Homo sapiens: one gene and its partners. The protein of the gene in region 3 interacts with the protein of the main gene of each other region in a biochemical or structural test. Each region holds a gene or a part of one and is shown on either strand. Other genes may lie near its edges.

Region 1 (7,023 bases), on a different chromosome or scaffold from region 3:
AGTTACACGAGAGTATCTGCTATATCAATGAACTTTGAGGGCTGCAGTTGAAAGACTATTATTATAGGACCAAGGTAAGTGCCCTGCAAGAAATGTCTATTTCTTGACTATCAGCTACAGCAAAATGAAGACAGAGAGAGAAGAGAAAGAGGAGACTTATAGTGGTCAAGAGATGAAATCAGCGTAATAGGTTTCAGGAGATGTATTGGCTGCAGATGAAATGGATTCTTTTAACCAGGTTAGCAGCTGAGTATGCATGAGAATAGAGTAGTTCCGACACTGAAGAATGTGGGAGCATTCTAGAAGTATTATGGAAAGTGAACACACCGGGGTTTTCAGAGGCAAATCTGTGGTGAGTGTGTGCTTAGCTGTACGTCTCCTGATGGATTCTCCCTGCATGAGAGAGGCTATTTCTAGGTTAGCAGGAATTTCTGGTGACTTTAATTCATGATATTAAAGGTAAGTAAATTGAGTATTCACTTTAGAGGAGGTCTCCGTGGATAAGCCTGCGGGAGTTGCTGTGCTGATGAGACTTGGCTGTCCTCATAAGCAGTGACTCCCATCAGCTGGTGTCCATGAGCGTGAGCAAGTGTACGCTATGTACAGGGCCAACAAGCGAAGAACTTTCCATTAATTTTCCCTCCATCTCCTACAATGGCTCTTCTTCACAAAGAAGATCATCACTGTGAGGCATGTTCTCGTGGCTCTGGTGGGCTGGCGTGAAGCCCCTCTACTGACTCCCTGTCTACTCATGGGGAAGGCAGGTGGCTGGGGTAGCCATAAGACATCCCACTGATGGTTTTCAGGAAATGCAACCTGTAACCCCGGCTGCCTGCCACTCCCAGAGCCAGGAAGAGGGAGGACAAATGCAAGGGCCAGAGAAGACGAAAGGCAAGAATAGCCTCTTAGGAGAAATTGTGTGTGCTAAGCCCGCTTGTATGGGGCTCCCTCAAGAGAGTTCAGTGTTCTTTAGCTGTTTCTTCTTTTTTACTACGTTTTTATGAAGTAGGATGATTTCAGAGCATTAAGAGTGTGCTGATAGCCATAAAGGAAAAAACTTTTAAAAACATTGAATCAGGGTTTGATAGGAAATGTCCACACTTCTTAAATTTGTATCAATATCTAAGTGATTTTCACGAGTGCTATTGTGTGTTTTTTTCTAAGGATGATCTATTCCCTCAGATGTCAAGCCAAGCTCCTAATTCACCGATCAGAATTGCCTGTTATCAAATGTCCAGACTTTTTATCAAAGGAAAATCAACGATGAGAGAAATGAATGCTTTAAAATGCAAATGAGTTTAAAGGGAGGAGATGAGTTAAGACGAGGGTCTGATGGGACATGAAAGGCAGGACCGCATCCAAGCCAATCACTTATCTTTACTCTTGTTTCTAATTTCTCAAAGACCCCAAGTTTCAGCTTCATCTCATACACTCATTATCATCTTTCAGAGAGCCAGCACCATCCCCTCATTTCAGTGTCTCGAGGTTCCCATGACCCCCGTTGTGTGTGAGCTCCCGGGGGGCCCTGTGGGCACTGGCACCCATGTGCACGTTCATTCAGGAGATGCTGGTGGGGCGGGCTGTGTCCATGACAGCACCTGCCAGTGGGATCTGCTCAGCGTCCACCCTCCCTAACATTTGCGGGATGATGCTTTGAGAGAAACACAAGAAACTTCAGGCAGAATCAGAATAGTCACCATAGAAAGACCAGAACACCGAACTGTCAGGGGAGAGAAGACAGTAAAATGTCTCTGTGTAGTAAAAGCAGATGAGTGAGCAACTGTGACCTTCCCACACAGAAGCACAGGTCAGGTGAGAGAAGACAGTAAAATGTCTCTGTGTAGTAAAAGCAGATGAGTGAGCAACTGTGACCTTCCCACACAGAAGGGCAGGAGCTCGGGTGCTCACACTTACCTGCCAGCTGTGTCACCAGGCCACAAAAATGCCGGCAACACAGCACACTGACGTGGTGGGGGCAACCAAACCAAAAACGACAAATTAAAGAAGTTCGCATGCAATTAGTACACTGTCCTTGGTCTGTTAAACTGTTTAATGAATGCATAAAAAGGCAGAAAAATATATAAAGCCAAAAGCTCATAATAAAATTAAATCATGATACAACCACCACAGGCAATTACCATCAAATACATTCCCATGATTTACAAATGTATCGCTTATACAGAGGAAGTTGCAAAATCACTGCCAGTACAGACACATCCAGTCTAATTAACTATCGTCTATTCATACAACAGCAACAACTGCAGCTCCTGAGACCACAGAAGGACACAGTGAGCAGCTGGTGACTGAGCCAGGGTAGCCTCCGATCAATAACTGATCAGAGTAATGAGACTTTGAGAGGAATGCCTATAAGAAATCTCAAAAGGTATTTGTTTGGGTGCAGAAACAAATGCACCCTCCACATTTGGATTTTCTCTAGAAGAATCTGTGGCCAAATCTCTTATCCAATGGAGGTACTGAGTGGCTGGATCAGTTACCATGCAAGCTCACGATGAATGAGATTGAATTTGGTTCTGTGTGCACACTGGGCTCTGGGGAGGGAGGACACCCCTGTGTGTTGCTGCTGCCTTCCGTGCTGTCTACTGTATCCTTCATGTGTCTCCAAATGGTACACGCCCCATGGGATTACAGAACACAGCTACAGAATTAGGATCTCATGGTAACAATGAGGAATTAGGTTACTGTAGAACTAAAATATGTTTAATGAAATTAAAATGCAATGGAAAAAAAATCAGGCAACAGAACATTCTGATGAATTTACAGGACTGATTATATCCCACGGCACTGAATGACAAACAGTTCTTCTCCATACAGTCGCAATTAGAGGCATAGAAGTCATACTGAATGCTGAATAGAAGAACACTGAGAAGAGCAGGTTATAAATGAAGGTTTTCACATAAAACAGAAAAATAGACAAAATCATCGGTAAGAAGCTAGCTTTCGAAAACCTCCCTAAAAGTACACGGCACGGAGAAGTGGGGTACTGGGATGTCCTGGCTGCTTTCTGCTTTGGGAACTATCCAAGTGGCACATCACCATGTCCAGCTTAGGTGTCTTGTGAAACCTTACTTCCTCCACATAAAAAGGAAGGAACGGTTTCCAAAGCTAATGTTTCCAGGCTCTGCCTCGTGACACTCAAGTGGCCTCAGATATGAGCACTGGCACAGAGTGATGCTGGAGAGGTCACTTAGAGAGAAGCTGCCGGGCCAAGCACACGACAATCTTGGCCCTAAGTGCTCACCCATTCCTCATGTGACCCTGACATTCCGGGGAACTGGGAAACCTGTTCCTTAAAGGCAACAACAGTCCTTTCTTTCCTCTCACAACAAAGGAGCATGTTCTCCGTGAATGCACTTTTCATTTACGGCTCTCAAAAGAATATGCCTTCTCAAGGAATTTTTAATGCACTTTTCTTGAATGTCAGCTCCCAGCAACACAAGCATGGGTGTTGTTAGGGCATTCCCGGGCTCGGGGGCGGCCGCTCCAACATGTGGTACCAGCGGCCATGTGCCCTCAAGGGGAGGGAGGAAGAGCACAGGAGGGTGGGAGGAGGACAAACAGCCCCTTTTATAGGGTCATGGGGGGGCTCCACTCAGAGTCTGGCAGGAATCTGCCAGGAAAACCTCGTTCTAGATAGGGAGAAGCAGAACTGTGTGTGGGGCAGGCCGCCGTGGTCCTGAGAGACAGGGCCCGGGCCTTCCACTGCTCGTTTGCACACCTCTTCGGCCTATCCCAAGGACCTTCCTAGCATATAAAAACAGGGGCTCTCCTGATTTGTAAACAGAACAACAAATAAAAATAAAAACAAAACCAAAAATTCCTCCATGGCAGCCCACCCAATGAATACCCCAGATTTTTAGGGCCATTGCGGGTCTGTAGCTGGGTGTAGAGAGAGTTAAGCTTTCATCTCCCATGTTTACAACACTTTGTGATAAAATAGTTGAGTGGAGCAATCACATCCCCACTGCGTGCGCTCCCCCGGGATGCCTCACAGCTGCTCTGTGATCACACGTGCAAATGTTATTATTATTATTTTTTGCCTTTGGCATCAAAGGGCAAGCCTGTTCATTAAAAAATCTTCTATATTCAACACTCCATAGTGAAAAGAATGGATACTTCAAAATTCCTAAAGCAATCATGTGAAAATTATTTTTATTTTTAAAATTTTTGAAAGTGTTTTGATTTTTATGGGTCCTTGATAATTGGCCAGCCCTGTTTTGCAAAGAGATGGACTATTTCTGAGACTAGAATGTTTTCTTTGAAAATATTGAAGAGTATAAGAGATTTAAGACAATAAAGGCTGTAATCTTACCATAAAGGAAGAAAAACATCTATGTGTGTCAATATTGTTTTGAGATAAAGTCACAATGATTGATATCAATGCTTTCACCATTTTATTTCAACTTAAACCAGTGTCACTCACATGAAGCTTATTTTATAATACATATTATCCAGTGATTTCATCTTTTCTGCACAGTTTAAGTACATTTTTTTTTTCTGTACCTTGAAGTAAGCAGAATAGTTCAAGCTTTCAAAACTGGTGATGCTGTATGCGTGAGGGATGCTTACATAATAGCAACGCTTTATTGGGCAACCCGAATCCATACATGTCTGGTGTGGTTTGATAGCTGGGCTTGAAAAAGTGCTTCCAGTTGAAATTAGCATTAGAAATCGGTTAGAACACCAACATTTCAGGGTGAGGGAGGACTGCTACAAAGGAAAAGAACATGTCTACAAATGCACTGAAAGAACTAGCCAGAATATGAATTCCATTAGTATCTAAGACACACAAAATGTCATTTACAAATAAGTCACGGCAAGTGTCACAACCTGAAATCTCAACTCAGACAGATGGTAGAGATGTTAACAGTTGCCTGAAACTTCGATGTGCTTTCACGCCCACAGGAAAGGTAAAACTGACATTTGTGTTTCTCTTCAACAATTTCATGATCAATAAAGAATTGCAGTTGGAGACTAAAGCAAATTCTAGAAACTCCTTAACTCCAAGTTGCCCTATGGTTTTTATGATTGCATGTTATCAGAATGAGGCGCTCTGTTCCACACTTTATTCAAAAGCCTTTTACGCTCCCACAAGGCCTTCTGGAATTCCAGAATCAGCCCTGCACACAGGCAGAAAAACAGCTTCATCTTACAGGTTGTGTGAGAACACCCAATAAACTAGGGACTTTTTTGGGAAAAACTTCTTTCTCTCCAAAATTACACAACCACCAAACACTCTAAACATCACGTAAAATACTGCATCTGCAATCTGAATGGCACTCAGGGACCAGCGCTTTGATGAACCAGCAGCCACAGGTTCTCCACTGACAATCAACTGCAGAAACCACTCCTAGACTCTGGACCCCATAGCAGAGTTTTTTTTTTTTGTAATACATTTTTATCCACATTTGCTTTTGAATAAAGAAACTTCTAAGACTCTGTATGCAAATTAATGGAATCACAAGATAATAAAGCTTTGATTCATAGACACTCATTTATCCCTCCCCCCTTCCACTTCTCAGACCACAGAGAACGTTTGCTCAAGGCGGATTTAAATTGAGGAGTTTGTTCAAAAGTCTTCCTCGACCTCAATCCTATGATTGTCGCAGAGCAACATGAAGCTAGCAGCACTGACTCCAGGAAAAAACGAGCATAACCCAGTGTTGAACCCCAGCGTGTGGGCTGCAGAGGCAACATCAGTCATCAAGTCCGCAAGCACACACCACCAGAGACCCTGAGAATGTGGCTCTCTTTCTGCAACGCCCATGTCCAGGCACCCTTAGAGATCCAGAATTCAGCATGTCCTTACATTCCTGAGCCACACCCCGGCCACCATCCCTTGTGAGGAAAAGAGGGGGTGAGTTAAACGAAAACGTCCTAAGCAGCCACTCAGGCCCACACTCTTGGGCTCATATGCATTCTCCAGCACGGAACGAGACCTTAGACAGCAAGAGGCTACGTGCCAGTTCTTCCTCTAATGGCTGAGTTCACCTACTGATTTCTCCTTTGCTTTTTCCATTTAAACTAAAACTCCTCTACTCCTCAGAGCTCACCTTGCCAGAGCCCCGCTTGGGCGCACCCCTGTCACCGCCAAAGAAGCGCCCGATGGAGTCAAGGATGCCCGTGTCTCTGTGCCTTGGGAGGAAGCCATGCCTGGCATGGTCCATGGTACTTGCTGTGGCCAGGTACTTGGATCCGTGCCTCTGGGAGGGTCTCTTCTGTGACGCCATCACATCCAGGCTCTCGGAGGTGGCTGCACTGTCTTCTTGGATGGTCTGGAGCTCGTCGGACTCAGAGGGCCTGTCTTTGAAGGTGTTGTCCTCCCTCCCCGGGGCATCTCGGGAAAAGAGGCGGATCAAGTGGGGGCGGCTCCCTGGGTCAGCTGGGTGGGCATCCTGCCAGGCATTCTTCGGGTCCGCTGTGCGCTTGGAGTCAGTCACCGCTGTGTCCTGAGAGGAGGTCCCATTGTTCTGGTTCGCATCTGCCTCTCCTGCAAACAACAATGAGATATGAATACGGGCCTGTGCAAAGCTGAGCACCGGACAAAGCAGCTTTCTCTGAGGGGTCTTGACCTAGCTGTCTCCTATAAAACCCACAGAATATGTGCAGTCCTCATAAAGCCCTTGGCCTAGGATGGAGCTAACCTGGATGGAGCAGCCTTATTGCAGCTCTGTGTTTCAGAAGGCTCTGGGAATTCCTCAGTTACTCGAGATTTGGCACCCAGCGTAAAATGCACCCAGGCTTCCCGATGAAGTCATCTGAGCATGCAGAGCAGCCACATCAGCGTTTCTTCCCGGGTGCTGCCATGGCTGCTCCCGGAGAGCCCAGATGTGCAGGCACCTTGATGGGACATTGACTGTTTAAAAGGCCACTGGTGCATAAGTTAAATATGCAAGGAGCATTTATTTGACAAAAGGTGTTTTTAGTTTTCTTGGTAGAAACAAAACTTGCCACATCTTTTTGCAATTCATGCATGAAAGAAGTGGGGCATTTAGAATTGTTTCA
Region 2 (7,177 bases), on a different chromosome or scaffold from region 3:
ACTCCTGACCTCAGGTGATCCACCTGCGTTGGCCTCCCAAAGTGCTGGGATTACAGGCGTGAGCCACCGCACCTGGCCAAAAATGTTTAAAAGTGAAGCTAATCCTTTGAGCTGGAGCTGCAAGGTAAAAGACAACAACAACAAAAAAGTGAAGCTAAGCATAATTTTGATGATCAAATGTAGTATCTTATTCTCACCTTACTGCAATGTCTGCCTCCCAGACTCAAGCAATCCATCCACCTCAGCCTCCCAAGTAGCTGGGACCACAGGCACTTGCACCAGGCCTGACTAATGTAGTATCTTATTCTAATAAAAGAGAATCTTATCTGACAGGCGAAAAAATTTAAAATGAGATAATAAAAATAATACAAAACCAAAAAAAGGAGAAAAAAAAGAGATAATCTTAGACATTTTTTCAAATAAGATATAAAGATGGCCAACAAGCACATTTGGGATGTTTAACGTCATTAATCAATAAGAAAAGGCAAATCAAAATCACAATGAGGGGCTGGGTGCGGTGGCTCACACCTGTAATCCCTGGACCAGCACATTGGGAGGCTGACGCAGGTGAATCACGAGGTCAAGATACCGAGACCATCCTGGCCAACATGGTGAAACCCTGTGTCTACTAAAAATACAAAAATTAGCTGGGCGTGGTGGTGGGCACACACCTGTAGTCCCAGCTACTTGGGAGGCTGAGGCAGGAGAATCACTTGAACCTGGGAGGTGGAGGTTGTGGTGAACTGAGGTGGTGCCACTGCATTCCAGCCTGGTGACAGAGCAAGACTCCATCTCAAAAAAAAAAAAAAAAAGGGAAAAAAAGAAAATTACAATAAAGTCCGGGCACGGTGGCTCACGCCTGTAATCCCAGCACTCTGGGGGGCCAAGGTGGGTGGATCACGAGGTCAGGAGTTCGAGACCAGCCTGGCCAATATGGTGAAACCCTGTCTCTACTAAAAATACAAAAAAATTAGCCAGGTGTGGTAGTGGGCGTCTGTAATCTCAGCTACTCGGGAGGCTAAGGCAGGAGAATCGCTTGAATCTGGGAGGCAGAGGTTGCAGTGAGCTAAGATCGCACCACTGCACTCCAGCCTGGTGACAGAGTGAGACTCTGTCTCAAAAAAATAAATAAAATAAAAAATAAAAGTATATCAGCAGCTCGGTTTTATCACTGTACCAAGAGTTGATCAGGTACAGGAGGGACAATATGCTAACCAGATTCACCGAGGACTACCAAATGATTCAGACTGCCCATTTAATAATCTACCATGAGAGGCCGGGCGTGGTGGCTCAGCACTTTGGGAGGCTGAGGGAGGCGGATCAAGAGATCAGGAGATCGAGACCATCCTGGCCGACATGGTGAAACCCCGTCTCTACTAAAAAAAAATACAAAAATTAGCTGGGCGTGGTGGTGCACTCCTGTAATCCCAGCTACTCAGGAGGCTGAGGCATGAGAATCAGGTGAACCTGGGAGGCAGAGGTTGCAGTAAGCCAAGATCATACCACTGTACTCCAGCCTGGTGACAGAGTGAGACTCCATCTCACAAATAAAAATAATTTACAATGAGAAATATGCCAAATGGCACAAAAGGTTCTTGCTGGCTGGTCAGTGTACAAAATGAATCAGGAAGCAAAATGAAAACCAAAGGTTGTTCCATGAAGGGTTCAGAGCCAAGTGAAGTGACTGAGAGATCTAGATCACAGCTGGTCACCAGGCACAAAGCTGACTCTCATGTCTTCACTATAAAGAGATACTTATGGCTGGGTGCAGTGGCGCACGCCTGTAATCCTAGCACTTTGGGAGGCCAAGACAGGCGATCACCTGAGGTTGGGAGTTCGAGACAAGCCTGACCAACATGGAGAAACCCCGTCTCTACTAAAAATACAAAACTAGCTGGGTGTGGTGGCACATGCCTGTAATCCGAGCTATTCAGGAGGCTGAGGCAGGAGAACTGCTTGAACTCAGGAGGCGGAGGTTGCGGTGAGCTGAGATCATGCCATTGCACTCCAGCCTGGGCAACAGGAGTGAAACTCTGTCTCAAAAAAAAAGAAGACAGATACTTATTACCATGCAGTCCAGGTATTCGCCTTGGCTTGTAAGAGGCAAACAAGGTCTATTTAGTACAGGAGACATAATGACAGCTTCTTGCTTTTTGCCTAAGCTTTTACTAACAGAAGACTAACTCTTTCTCGGACAGAAAGAGCCTGCTATTAAGAGAAAAATGATCGGCCGGGCACGGTGGGTCACGCCTGTAATCCCAGCACTTTGAGAGGCCGAGGTGGGCGAATCACGAGGTCAGGAGATCCAGACCATCCTGGCTAACAGGGTGAAACCCCGTCTCTACCAAAAATACAAAAAAATTAGCCGGGTGTGGTGGCGGGTGCCTGTAGTCCCAGCTGCTGGGGAGGCTAAGGTAGAAGAATGGCGTGAACCCAGGAGGCGGAGCTTGCAGTGAGCCAAGATCATGCCACTGCACTCCAGCCTAGGCGACACAGCGAGACTCTGTCTCAAAAAAAAAGAGAAAAATGATCAGGTTGGGATGGGCCTATACCCTAGTTATTTTTTTTTATTTTTATTTTTTGAGACAGAGTCTCACTCTGTTGCCCAGGCTGGACTGCAGTGGCACAATCTCCGCTCACTGCAACCTCCAGCTCCCAGGTTTAACCATGTCTGGCTAATTTTTGTATTTTTAGTAGAGATGGGGTTTTGCCATGTTGGCCATGCTGGTCTTGAACTCCTGGCCTCAAATGATCCGCCTGCTTCAGCCTCCCAAAGTGCTGAGATTACAGGCATGAGCCACCGCGCCTGGCCTTGAATATTTCTACAATGATGGAATGTACCTGTTAATACAGTGTGTCTTATCAAACACATGCTGCCAAGGAGAGCACTGGGTATTCTTCCAGTGTAAAGTAGATTCCTAGGCAGTCTAGGGAGTCAGGAAAGGCTTCCCTGAGGATGAGATGGAAGAGGGACTGAGGGCCCAAAGTGGCTGAAAGACAGAGAGCCAATAGGAGGAAGTCCAGTTACAGAGGGCCAGGATTTGGGTTTTTAACCATTTAATGGTTATAAACTGAGACTAACATACTCAGATTTAGACTTTACAAAGATCAGCAAGTATAATGGATTGGAAGGATCAAGAATTAATCCCAGCCTGACCAACACAACCTCCACTTCCTCCTCCCAGCAGTTTGGAATCCTTACCTTTTGCAATAGTATACGTTCATTCATTTATTATGCATTCGATAATATTTACTGAGAGCCTACTATGTGCCAAACATTATCCTAGAGGTTAAGAGGGGACAAGAGCAAAGGGTCAGCAGTCTAGGGGTGAGATGGAGTCAAAAGGACGGCAGGTCAGCTGGAATGATGAGAACAGCAGTGGAGAGCCTTTAAAAGTGCCTTGGACTGGACCGATTACCTTCTAAATGCCGGCGCCCGGAAAAATCACTAACACCCTTTGGACTTACGTATTTCCATCTTTGTAAAATGGGAACCTACCTCGCAAGGGATGTTGCAACAATCGAAGAAAACTATGCACAATGCTTGACATCCAGTGGGTCCTCAGTAAATAGCCTAAGAAGGAAGCAAGGTTATGGTTACTTCTGGAAGAGGTGGCTTGGGGGCTGCGACAGGTGCAGCGATTGCCTGATGATAACATCTAGAAAAGCCCTTGCTGGGCAGAGGGGCAGCCGACGACCCCCGCCACTCAGCGAGTCTCCAGGTTTCCCGGAAACGCTAGCTCCAGTGACTTCTCAGATGCCCCTATGGGACCCCACCCAGGGCTGCCGCCGCCACCACCTACTGCAGCCGAAGCGGATGCACCTCGCGACTTTCCCCGCAGCCGCTGCCGGGGCCACAGCGAGGTCATGACGCCCGTGACGCATACGCAGCCAGCACGCACGCGCGCGGCGTGGCCCGCCCCCCCCTCCCACCCCGGAGGCGGGGCCGTGAGTCCCGGGCTCCGCCCCGGAGCGTCGGGCCCCTCCCCGGGCCCCGCCTCCAGCTCGCCTAGGACCGCTTGGAGCCGGCAGCTCGCCTGCCAAACCCGGCTGGGAACGCCTGGCAGCTTTTAGGAGGGGGCGGGCCCGGGGGTGGTGGCCCCAGGAGCGGTTGCCGCGGGGACCGGGCAGTGACGCGGCCCAAGGGCGGAAGTGAGAAAGTTGTCTGCGTCTCGAGGCGAGTTGGCGGAGCTGTGCGCGCGGCGGGGCGATGGGGGGCTCGGGCAGTCGCCTGTCCAAGGAGCTGCTGGCCGAGTACCAGGTGCGCGGGACGCCTGGCCCTGGGGAGCTCGCGTGCGGGCCTCTTCTCGGGAGCAGGGTCCGGGAGCTGGCTGCGGGGCGGCCGCGGCCTCCCAGCGGTCCGCTAATCCCCGCTCTGGCTTTGCCTTCCAGGACTTGACGTTCCTGACGAAGCAGGAGATCCTCCTGTAAGTGCTGCCTTGAACCCTGCCTCCGACCCCGGGATCCTCTAGAGACAGCTTCGGGGGCGCTGTCCCGAGGGAGGGGCGGGGGCTGGCCTGAGGTCTGCAGAGGAGCGGGAGCTGGAGGCCGGGAGACCTAGCCCGGGCTGCGCCCTCCTCCCGGCACGCCCTCCCCGCCCTCGCCTGAGGCCCCAGCGTGGCACCGCGGAGCCACCTTACAGCCTCCAGGAAAAGTTAGGCGCTCTTTGACCCTGGGCTCCACTAGCTTCAGCACTGCCGAACTTCCTGCCCCAGTCCGGCAGGGGCCGACCTTGCCCAGTGGCTAAACCACAGAAGCCTTGGGGAGCCCGGCTCCTTCTCCCAACTTTACCTGAATAATACAGTAACCGTTATCGCTTTCTGAGCACTCACCATGTGCCAGGGACTGTGCTAAATGGTTGCCTGCGTTACCTAATTTAATCTTTAGGAGAGAGGTACTGGACAATGAAACAGGTTCAGAAAGGTTTGGTAACTGCTTAAGACAACACTCTGAGTAAGTAGATTTGAACTTGGGCTGGAAGCCCTTTTGCCGGATTTATGCAGGCCAGGTTCCTGTGGCAAAGATAAGCTCATGGGAAGGAGGTGGAGGCCGAGGAGGACAGTTCAGTGTGGTTGCTAAAAAGGAGGCTTTGAGGGTAAGAGATCCCTGGAGTGAAGGTGAGAATGAGATTTTTGGTTTTGCTCTTTTCTCCGTTTTTTTTTTTTTGAGACAGCGTCTCGCTCTGTCGCCCAGGCTGGAGTGCTGGGGCACGATCTTGGCTCACTGCAGGCTCTGCCTCCGGGTTCAAGTGATTCTCCTGCCTCCGGGTTCAAGTGATTCTCCTGCCTCAGCCTCCTGAGTAGCTGGGATTATAGGCACCCGCCACCATGCCCGGCTAATTTTTGTATTTTTAGTAGAGAAGGGGTTCACCATGTTGCTCAGACTGGTCTCAGACGCCTGACCTCCAAAGCTCCGCCCGCCTTGGCCTCCCAAAGTGCTGGGATTACAGGTGTGAGCCACCGTGCCTGGCCAATTCTTTAGGGCCAACTTCTGGCTCCTTTCCCAACTTCTTCATCCCTTGGGGATCTCTAGAATCAGTGCCAAGCACATAGTAAATGCTCAGTAAATACTCATTGCAAGAATAGACTCCTAGGCTGTACTGCCTTGTGACATGTCCTTTTGCTTACCGTTGCCTGATGACTCGGAAGTTCTGTGTACGTGGTTTTAGCTCCTCACCTGGTTGACAATGAGCAGCAGGCAAGGAGTGGGAATGAACACACAGGGAGACCGATCGCTGAGAACACCGACAGTTCCCCTCTCTCTACCAGAGCCCACAGGCGGTTTTGTGAGCTGCTTCCCCAGGAGCAGCGGAGCGTGGAGTCGTCACTTCGGGCACAAGTGCCCTTCGAGCAGATTCTCAGCCTTCCAGAGCTCAAGGTGCAAGCGCTCCCCTCCTTTGACACCTCTCCCACCACTCCCTCCCTGCTAGACCCCCTAACTCCATCTGCCACTAGCTTTGGGATCATGGGGTCACTGGTCCCCACTCTGGTCATTTTTCTGCTTAGTTCTGATTTTCTAGGGGCAAGGACTTTACCAAAATCACCTGGCAGAATTATCTAGAATGGTGCTTTTCAAATGGGGATTCTAGAACATAATCTTGGAAGTTCAAAGAAGTTTTGTCCCTTAAGAGGAGTTGAGGTACCTCATTAGAGTTTGAGGAACCGTGTTCTAGAGGCTGATTGCCACTCCGTAAGGCTGCTGCAAAATTTCTGTGCAAAGGGCCTGGCCCGGTGCCTGTAACACAATAGCTGTTCAAGTAAATATTTGTGTTTTAAAATAACCAGCCCATCTCGTTCCCTTTGTTTAGGATGACTTCTTCTTCCCTCTCTGCCCACACTTACGTTGTATGTGACCTGCCTTTGGGTTAAACACTTGACTCCCAGGAAGCCATCTCAGTCCCTTCCCCAGCTGGGTCAGTTTGCTTTCCTGTGCCCCCACTGCCCTCCATGTTGGCCCCAAAGCACTGACTGTTCACCCCCACGAGGCTGAGCTCGCTGGTGCTGGTCCTGTGACCTGCTCTCTCAAGTTTCTGGTAGGCTTTAATGAGCGTGTGACCTGGGCCACGTCCTGTGGCGTTTGTTCTCCTAGGCCAACCCCTTCAAGGAGCGAATCTGCAGGGTCTTCTCCACATCCCCAGCCAAAGACAGCCTTAGCTTTGAGGACTTCCTGGATCTCCTCAGTGTGTTCAGTGACACAGCCACGCCAGACATCAAGTCCCATTATGCCTTCCGCATCTTTGGTGAGAACCAGGAGCAGCCCGGCAGGACACCACCCCTTCCCACGTGGGCTTTGTGGTGGCCCTGCTTGGGAAATGGGCGCCGTTTGGGGAACCTCAGAGCCCCTCCCAACCGTGTCTTTTGGCTTCCTGTGTCTGCTCTCTAGACTTTGATGATGACGGAACCTTGAACAGAGAAGACCTGAGCCGGCTGGTGAACTGCCTCACGGGAGAGGGCGAGGACACACGGCTTAGTGCGTCTGAGATGAAGCAGCTCATCGACAACGTGAGCAGCTGAGCAGGCCTGGGAGCGGGAGGGAGCAGTTGGGGCTCTGGCCTGAAACTCTCCCTTTCCCAGATCCTGGAGGAGTCTGACATTGACAGGGATGGAACCATCAACCTCTCTGAGTTCCAGCACGTCATCTCCCGTTCTCCAGACTTTGCCAGGTATGACAGTGGTCC
Region 3 (7,692 bases):
AGACCTGTCTAGGTTGAAAGAAGCAGTACGAAGGGACAGAGTGGGCGCAGGAAAAAGAGGCTTCCGAGAGCATGCCCTCCCCACTATTCCATACACACCTAAATGCCTGGTAAGATCTTTGCCAGCTCACTCACATGATTCCAAGATAGGGAGCTTCCCTTGATTCTGAGAGTAACTCAGCCCACCTAAATGGAGGAAGCAAGGGCCAAGCACAACCTCTTTTTTTTTTTTTTTTTTTTTTTTTTTTTAAGACAGAGTCTCATTCTGTCACCCAGTCTGGAGTGTGCAGTGGTACAATCTCAGCTCACTGCAACCTCTGCCTCCCAGGTTCAAGTGATTATCCTGCCTCAGCCTCCTGAGTAGCTAGGACTACAGGTGTGCACCACCATGCCTGGCTAATTTTTGTCATTTTAGTAGAGACAGGGTTTCACCATGTTGGCCAGGAGGCTGGCCTGGAACTCCTGACCTCAGGTGATCCACCCGCCTTGGCCTCCGAAAGTGCTGGGATTACAGGCGTGAGCCACCACGCCTGGCCCAAGCACAACCTTTTAGGGTCAGCCACCTGAAGTGGAATCCTGCATTGGCCACTTACTCCCTATGAATCCTAGGGCCAGTTAGGGATCCCTGGGTTTTCTCACCTAAGAAGGTAAGTACTTCCTTCACAGGCTTGTTTGGAGGATTCAATGAAATACACTCAAACTTCAGCTCCCTTCTAATCATTCTCTCTCCCTTTCCCAGAGACAGTATTTGGAGAATAACAGAAACCAAGCCTTGTTAGGAAAGTTTCTTTCAAATTAGCTTAGAGTTTAACATTTTTTTTCTAGAGCCCTAGGAAAAAAACGCCCAATCAGTGCAATAAAAATAGGCTCAAGTGTTCAGTTGGGTATTTTCCTCTCATATCTTTTAGTTCTTTGAAGTTTCTTCCAAATTATAATCCAAAAATAAGAGTGCTACAATTTTTAGAAAAGTTATGTTGATGTAACTTTTATAGCAAGCTACCCAAAGAATCAAGCTATATTATAGCCATGCTCAGTTATGAAGACCAAAACTATTTTAAAAATACCAGAACGAGAAAGTCCTAGTTTATTTAGTCTGGCTTCCTTAACATGAAGGTCTTGTTGTTCTCAAAATATTCAGCTTTGGCTGAATTCCAAAACTGACATAAGCCCACTTCAGGTGTTTGGAAGACACTAAAGAGAATCAGAATTGAAAACAAGATTGGAAAATAAAGCCTTTTATGTGATCACAAATGCAAGAAGTGTATTGTTTTGAAACTACTAAACCAAGTTTTTACCCACAAATGTAAACATAAATATGTATATATTCTCAACACTGGACGTACAGGGGACTAAAGGTTAATTTCCATAATATGGTATTATTCCTAACATTTGCTAACAGCTAAGTGCTTCAGTTACTAGAACTGCCTTAACATTTTCTGAAATTTGAGATAGGTTGAAAGATACATTTCTTTCATGGATTATGCTAGCAATCACTTTAATGGCGAAACTAATCTTATTATTAGGATAGCATACAGGTGTTTTAGACAATGTTAAATTACAAACTTTCTAGCCCACCATGGTTTATGGGGTAATAAAAAACAGGCCCTGGTTCTTTCACCAAAATCCTTACAAAGATAACACACAAGTTCAGTGTAAGTTGTAATGTTATTGCCTTTGGAAGCACTGTAATTACTTCAAAGTCTGGGTTGGTGAGAGGAAATTCAAGCTACTAAAACTTATCGAAGGTAAGGTGAGTTGGGAAGATCATCACATGGCATGCAAATTAATATAGTTACACTCTGCGTGCATGGTATGTCATCGTTCCCGTACTCTCAAAACTACACAGAGAAAAGGAGAACCTCATCTAAAACGGTCACAGGTATATGCAGAAAGAAAACAGGGACCAAACCTCACAGAAGCGAAACCGAGACACTGAAAGGAGAAAGACTGACTGGGGCAAATATCTCACACTGCTGGAGAACAGTTCAAGTCGATCGCATGGACCCAGGGCTCCAGCGCTGGGCGGTGGGTGGATCCATAGGTCTATCGCACAAGTACACACAGACTCTTGCACAAGCACACACGCTCTCTCCGGAGCGGCGAGCGACAGGAGCAGTCACGCAGCGGCGCTCGCTGCCCCCAAAGTGGGGCAAGAAGTAAATGCTTCCCGCCCAGAAAAATGAAATGCCCCGAAGACCGCCAGATTAAACGCGGGTCCCGACCGCGCGGGATGGGAAAGGGGTCACACACGCACCTGCATTGTAAAAGCGGTCCAGCACGGTGGTTTCTCCAAAGTCGAGTTTCCCAAAATGCAGGGTTTCCAGGGTGGCGCCCACTGTCTCGCACGCCTCCCGCAAGCTCTGCAGGGCCTCGCTCTCGGCCACCACCAGTTGCCCTTGGCTCGCTTCGTTGATCACATATGCCACCGTGGTCCGTCGGCTGCCCCCGCCAACAGAGCTGCCCCGGCCTCGGGTGGCACTGCTCGAGGAGGTGGCCGCCGGACAACCGATGCCAGGGGCAGCGGCGCTCTCCACGTTCCAGAAGCTGCCCGGCGGCGGCGGTGGCAGCTGGTGCTCCTCGCCCTCGCCCACCGCCGCCGCTCCTCCCCTCCTGCAGATGCCGCCCTCGGGGATGGTGCAGAAGCCCGAGGGGGCGAAGGGTGGCACAGAGAAAGTGATGCCCTCGTCCGCCTCCGTGCTCATCTCTCCGGGCCGGGCAGCAACGGCGGCGGCGTCCCCCGCCCAGCCGCACCGCCTGGCCAGCCACAGCTCGGGGCTGCTCCGCGCCCGCCGGGCTAAGCAGCTGCCATCGCGCGCCGCGCCCTCGCCGCCGCGCCGCCGCCTCCTCTCCGGCGCCCTCTCCCCCGAGGGCACGCCGCTGCCCGGCGGCGGCTCGCTCCTCCTCGGCGCCTCCGTGGCCGCGCCGCTCGCCCTCTGCAGAGTTTAGAGTACAAGGGGTGGGGAAGCCGGGTGAGCGGGAAGGGACGGAGCTTCCTTTTCTTGGCCGGCTGACAAGTCGGCTCGCAAACCTGCGCCGCGGTGCAGCTCAAGGGCGCCGCGCTCGGGGTGCAGCCCGCCCTCGCCACCCGCCGCGCCGCGCCGCGCCGCGCCGCGCAGCTCCTTCCGTCCCGGCCGCTCTGGGAGGGGCCAGGAAGGGCGCCCCCTGGGTGCGGAGCTACCTGGCGCGCACCTTACGAGCGGGCTGGCTCCCCAGGCGGCGTCCCGGAACAGCAGCAGCGGCAGCCGAAAGGACCCTCCTCCCTCTTAGGCGGCAGCTCGCCTTCATCGGGTGGATTTCCTCCTCCTTGCCTGGCCTCGTTTCTCTTTCGATCGCCTCCGCCGCGTGGTCCCGGCGCCAGCCTCGTCGTTCCTTGCAGACGCTCTCCCTCTCCACCACCAGCTTCTGGCCACCCACTCGTAGCGGCACCGAGGGTCAGGGCCAGCCCCCAAGGAGGGCGCTGCTAGGAAGCTCGAGCCCGGACTGAACTGACCGCGCTGCGGCCCTGGGACCCCAGCCCTCCTCTGAGTGCTGCGCGTGGCATAGGGTCCCAGTCTTCACCCACCCGGCCCCCACCTACGAAGACCTGGAGCGCAAGCGATTACGGGGTGGCGCAGAAAGTCCCTCGAGGCAATACTCGGTCTTCGGAGTCCGCCCCTGAAGCATTTCCAGTGTTCCCCGCGACTAGGGCGCCCCCCTCCGGGCCTTGGCGGCCTGGTGGACTGGGACCGTGCGCGGCGCTGGCAGGATAGGCTCCGGGAGACCCACGTTGCGCGAGGCAGGAGGTTGTACATAGCGCCCTGGAGCCAGGGCCTGCACTGGAGGTTGCTTCATTAGTGACTGTGGCACTCCAGAAGTGGCTGGCTAAATTGATCAGGTTCTCCCATGTACTTTTCCTTTTAAAATTTCCAGTGGCTCATTCCGTTATCAGTAATGAGTAATTGATTAGTGCCAACTGCCGAAGGACTTAGTATTCTCATTTAGGATCTTAATTCCCCCACAAGCGCCAGATACTTAAGATAGAAGATGGAGTCTCTACCCGACTCCACAAATTATCAACAAGATGAAACAGGGGAATAACGTGACCTATTCTATTTTTTAAACTGCATCACGCGAGGCCGGGAGGGAAATACCCAGATTGTTTAAGAGCAATCAAAAAAAGTACCTGCTTATTTGGGGAGCAAAGAACAGATGTGTAAGTTCCCAGAGAACCCCAGAATGCTGTAATTGTTAGGAAAGCCAGTGCAAGTTACAACTGAGTAAAGAAACAGGTTTTGTACTTCCCATCTCCAGGAACTGAGACTAGTGAGTCCTGTGAAAAAGGCAGAAGAAAATGTAAATTACTTTTTTTTTTTTTTGAGACGGAGTTTCGCTCTTCTTGCCCGGGCTGGAGTGCAATGGCGCGATTTCGACTCCCTGCGACCTCTGCCTCCCGGGTTCAAGCGATTCCCCTGCCTCAGCCTTTCGAATAGCTGGGATTACAGGCATGCGCCACCACACCAGGCTAATTTTGTATTTTTAGTAGAGACGGGAGGGGGAGGGGTGTGGGGTTCACCATGTTGGCCAGGCTGGTCTCTAACTCCTGACCTCAGGTGATATGCCCGCGTCGGCCTCCCAAAGTGCTGGGATTACAGGCGTGAACCACCCAGCCCAGCCATGAATTACATTTCAAACTGGGTAAGAAGGAAGGATAAAATAGCTGAATAGTAAAGAATTAAAGGAAAGTCTGGGCGCAGTGGCTCACGCCTGTAATCCCAACACTTTGGGAGGCCGAGGCGGGCAGATCACTTGAGGTCAGGAGTTCAAGACCAGCCTGGCCAACATGGTGAAACCCCCGTCTCTACTAAAAATACAAAAATTAGCTGGACGTGGTGGCAGCCGCCTGTAATCCCAGCTACTCGAGAGGCTGAGACAGGAGAATCGTTTGAACCCGGGAGGTGGAGGTTGCAGTGAGCCGAGATGGCGACACTGCACTCTAGACTGGGCGACAGAGCGAGACTCCATCTAAAAAAAGAAAAAGAAAAAGAATTAAAGGAAAGAGTTCTTTAATTTTCTCCAAGGTGGGAGGATTGCTTGAGCCCAAGAGTTCAAGATCAGCCTGGACAACATAGTGAGACCCCCATCTTAAAAAAAAATAATAATTAAAGGAAGGAAGGAAATAGTCATGAGGAAAAACACCTAGCCGCTACACAACTGTATCAATGAATCAATGTGACATTAGATTTTTCTAAAGGTGTATAAAATAATAGAAGTAAATTTCTAGTAAGGAAACTTTATATTCTTCATGTAAAATGGAATCTATGTGACCCACACTAGCTTTTGGAATTAATATCAATAGTAAAATAGGTAGTGAATCAGTGATTATACTGAAACAAAATGTTGCTGAGCTAGTAATAGTTATGTGCCTTTTAATATTTTCAACAACTTGTCAAACCTCCAAAACCTTGTAGGAGTAAGATAATCCTCCCCGCTATCCTCACCAAGAACCACAAACTCTGGAAATCGATGAGGTTCATGTGTGGAAAACTAAAACGCCTAAATGCTCAAGTAGCATTTTACTGTAGAAATACAAAATCTGAAATTATATATCAAGCTATTTTCCAAAGCTGTAACTTTTTATACCCTCTCACTTTGTGCTTTCCTTCCAGATCCTTTCAGAGCCATTTTCATACACAATTTTTATTTTTTGTTTTACTTTGCTGGCTTTTTTGATTTATTAACTTTAAATATGTTTTTTATGTTAGGCACCCAAACCCCAATACAATGTTGAAATTCTGCTTCTAGCTGGTCCAGAGATTCTCCCTCTACCTAAAAGGCACGGTTTAGGTAATTTATGTTCCATAGCATAGGGTTATGAGATAATGAGGAACTAGCTGGCAAGATTCTGGAAGAAAGGACAGGAATCCAGAGGGTGAGTCTACAGTCAGGGTTCCCTTTGGCTGTGGGATTTTTGTGGATCTGAATTAGGCAGCTGAAAGGCTGAAGTGAATTTTTTTAATGAAAAATAACGGTATTTTGCAAAACAAAACAAAAAGAATGGTGACACCGTTGTGCATTTTCACAAATCTTTTTAATGTCTGGCTTAATAGATGACAGTGGATTCTCATTTCTGCTTCTACATTCATGCTGTTGCAGCATGTTGTTTTGGTTGAAGGGTATAAAGAAAATCTGGAGAAGTTTCTGAAGTGTAGGAGGTATTTGAAGAAGTACATGAAGAAAATACTCTGGGAGGAGCACAGTCACTCCCACTGTGAAGGCACACATGAATTCCTAAAAATCACTGAGCTGTGCAAAATAGTGCTTTTTTTAAAGTAATTTCAAGTTTTATTTTAGATTCGGGGGTACATGTGCAGGTTACATGGATATATTGCATGATGCTCAAGTTTAGGGTACGATTGTTCTTGTCACTCAGGTAGTAGAAAGAGCACCCAACAGTTGGTTTTTCAACCCTTGCTCCCTCCTTCCCTCCCGTCCGCAGTGTCTGTTGTTACCATCTTTATGTCCATGTGTATCCAATGGGACCCTCTCCTGGGAAGGTCTTAAGACCCACAGTCAGAAAGGTGGGGGGTTGTTAGCAGGTAAAAGGAGAGCAGGAAAAAATTAGAGGCCTGCCTCTGAGGCCTAACACACTCAACATAACAGAAGACTATAACGAGGGTTATGGGAGTTACAAGCCAGAAACCACAGATGAAAACCAATATATATCGTAACACCACACTCTGTTCATAGTTTCTTTGGTTGTGCAGAAGCTGTTTAGATTAGGTCCCGTCTGTCAGTTTTTCGTTTTGCTGCAAATTGCTTTTCAGGACTTAGTCATAAATTCTTTCCCAAGGCCGATGTCTAGAATGGTATTTCCTAGGTTTTCTTCTATGATTCCTAGGGTTTGAGGTCTTACATTTAAATCTTTAACCCATCTTGAGTGAATTTTTGTATATGGTGATGGGTAGGGGTCCAGTTTTATTCTGCATAAGGCTAGCCAGCACCACTTATTGAACAGGGAGTCCTTCCCCATTGCTTATTTTTATCGACTTTGTTGAAGATCAGATGGCGGTAGGTGTACGGCTTTATTTCTGAGTTCTCTACTCCGTTCCATCAGTCTGAGTGTCTGTTTTTGTACCAGTACCGTGCTGTTTGGGTTACTGTTGCCTTATAGTACAGTTTGAAGTTAGGTAATATGATGCCTCTGGCTTTGGCTTTAGCTATTCAGGCTCTTTTGGGGTTTTATTTTATTTTATTTTATTTTTTCCTGCTGTTCTACAGGCTCCTTTTTGGTTCCATATGAATTGTAGAATAGTTTTTCTAATTCTGTGGAAAATGATGTTGGTAGTTTCTTAGGAATACCATTGAATCTGTAGATTGCTTTGGACAGTGTGGCCATTTAAACAAGATTGATTCTTCCAATCCATCAGCGTGGAATATTTTTCTGTTTGTTTGTGTCATCTATGATTTCCTTCAACAGTGTTTTGTAATTCTCCTTGTAGGGATCTTTCACTTCCTTGATTGGATGTATTCCTAGATTGTGTGCGTGTGTGTGTGTGTGTGTGTGGCTATTATAAATGGAACTGTGTTCTTGACTTGTCTCTCAGCTTGAACGTTATTGGTATATGAAAATGCTACTGATTTTTATACATTGATTTTGTATCCTGAAACTATACCGACATTGTTTATCAATTCTAGGAGCCATTTGGTGGAGTCT

What was found. The genes of interacting proteins can lie anywhere in the genome.
Region 1: of the proteins of MAP3K5 (region 3) and MBP, one has a biochemical effect on the other in vitro, tested with the Homo sapiens proteins (one study listed by BioGRID).
Region 2: the proteins of MAP3K5 (region 3) and CIB1 form a complex in vitro, tested with the Homo sapiens proteins (2 studies listed by BioGRID and IntAct).

The regions. Positions count from the first base shown.
Region 1 is NC_000018.10:77,010,761-77,017,783, forward strand, and holds part of MBP (Golli-MBP), read right to left. Parts: intron 6,509-7,023; coding exon 6,072-6,508; coding exon of another isoform or gene 6,054-6,071; exon of another isoform or gene 2,033-6,053; intron 1-2,032. UniProt on the Homo sapiens protein: The classic group of MBP isoforms (isoform 4-isoform 14) are with PLP the most abundant protein components of the myelin membrane in the CNS. They have a role in both its formation and stabilization.
Region 2 is NC_000015.10:90,230,919-90,238,095, reverse strand, and holds the start of CIB1 (calcium and integrin-binding protein 1), read left to right. Parts: upstream 1-4,154; 5' UTR 4,155-4,210; coding exon 4,211-4,261; intron 4,262-4,392; coding exon 4,393-4,427; intron 4,428-5,648; coding exon of another isoform or gene 5,649-5,768; coding exon 5,769-5,877; intron 5,878-6,588; coding exon 6,589-6,739; intron 6,740-6,882; coding exon 6,883-7,001; intron 7,002-7,073; coding exon 7,074-7,162; coding exon of another isoform or gene 7,163-7,177. UniProt on the Homo sapiens protein: Calcium-binding protein that plays a role in the regulation of numerous cellular processes, such as cell differentiation, cell division, cell proliferation, cell migration, thrombosis, angiogenesis, cardiac hypertrophy and apoptosis.
Region 3 is NC_000006.12:136,789,457-136,797,148, forward strand, and holds the start of MAP3K5 (mitogen-activated protein kinase kinase kinase 5), read right to left. Parts: upstream 3,022-7,692; 5' UTR 2,933-3,021; coding exon of another isoform or gene 2,702-2,932; coding exon 2,254-2,701; intron 1-2,253. UniProt on the Homo sapiens protein: Serine/threonine kinase which acts as an essential component of the MAP kinase signal transduction pathway. Plays an important role in the cascades of cellular responses evoked by changes in the environment.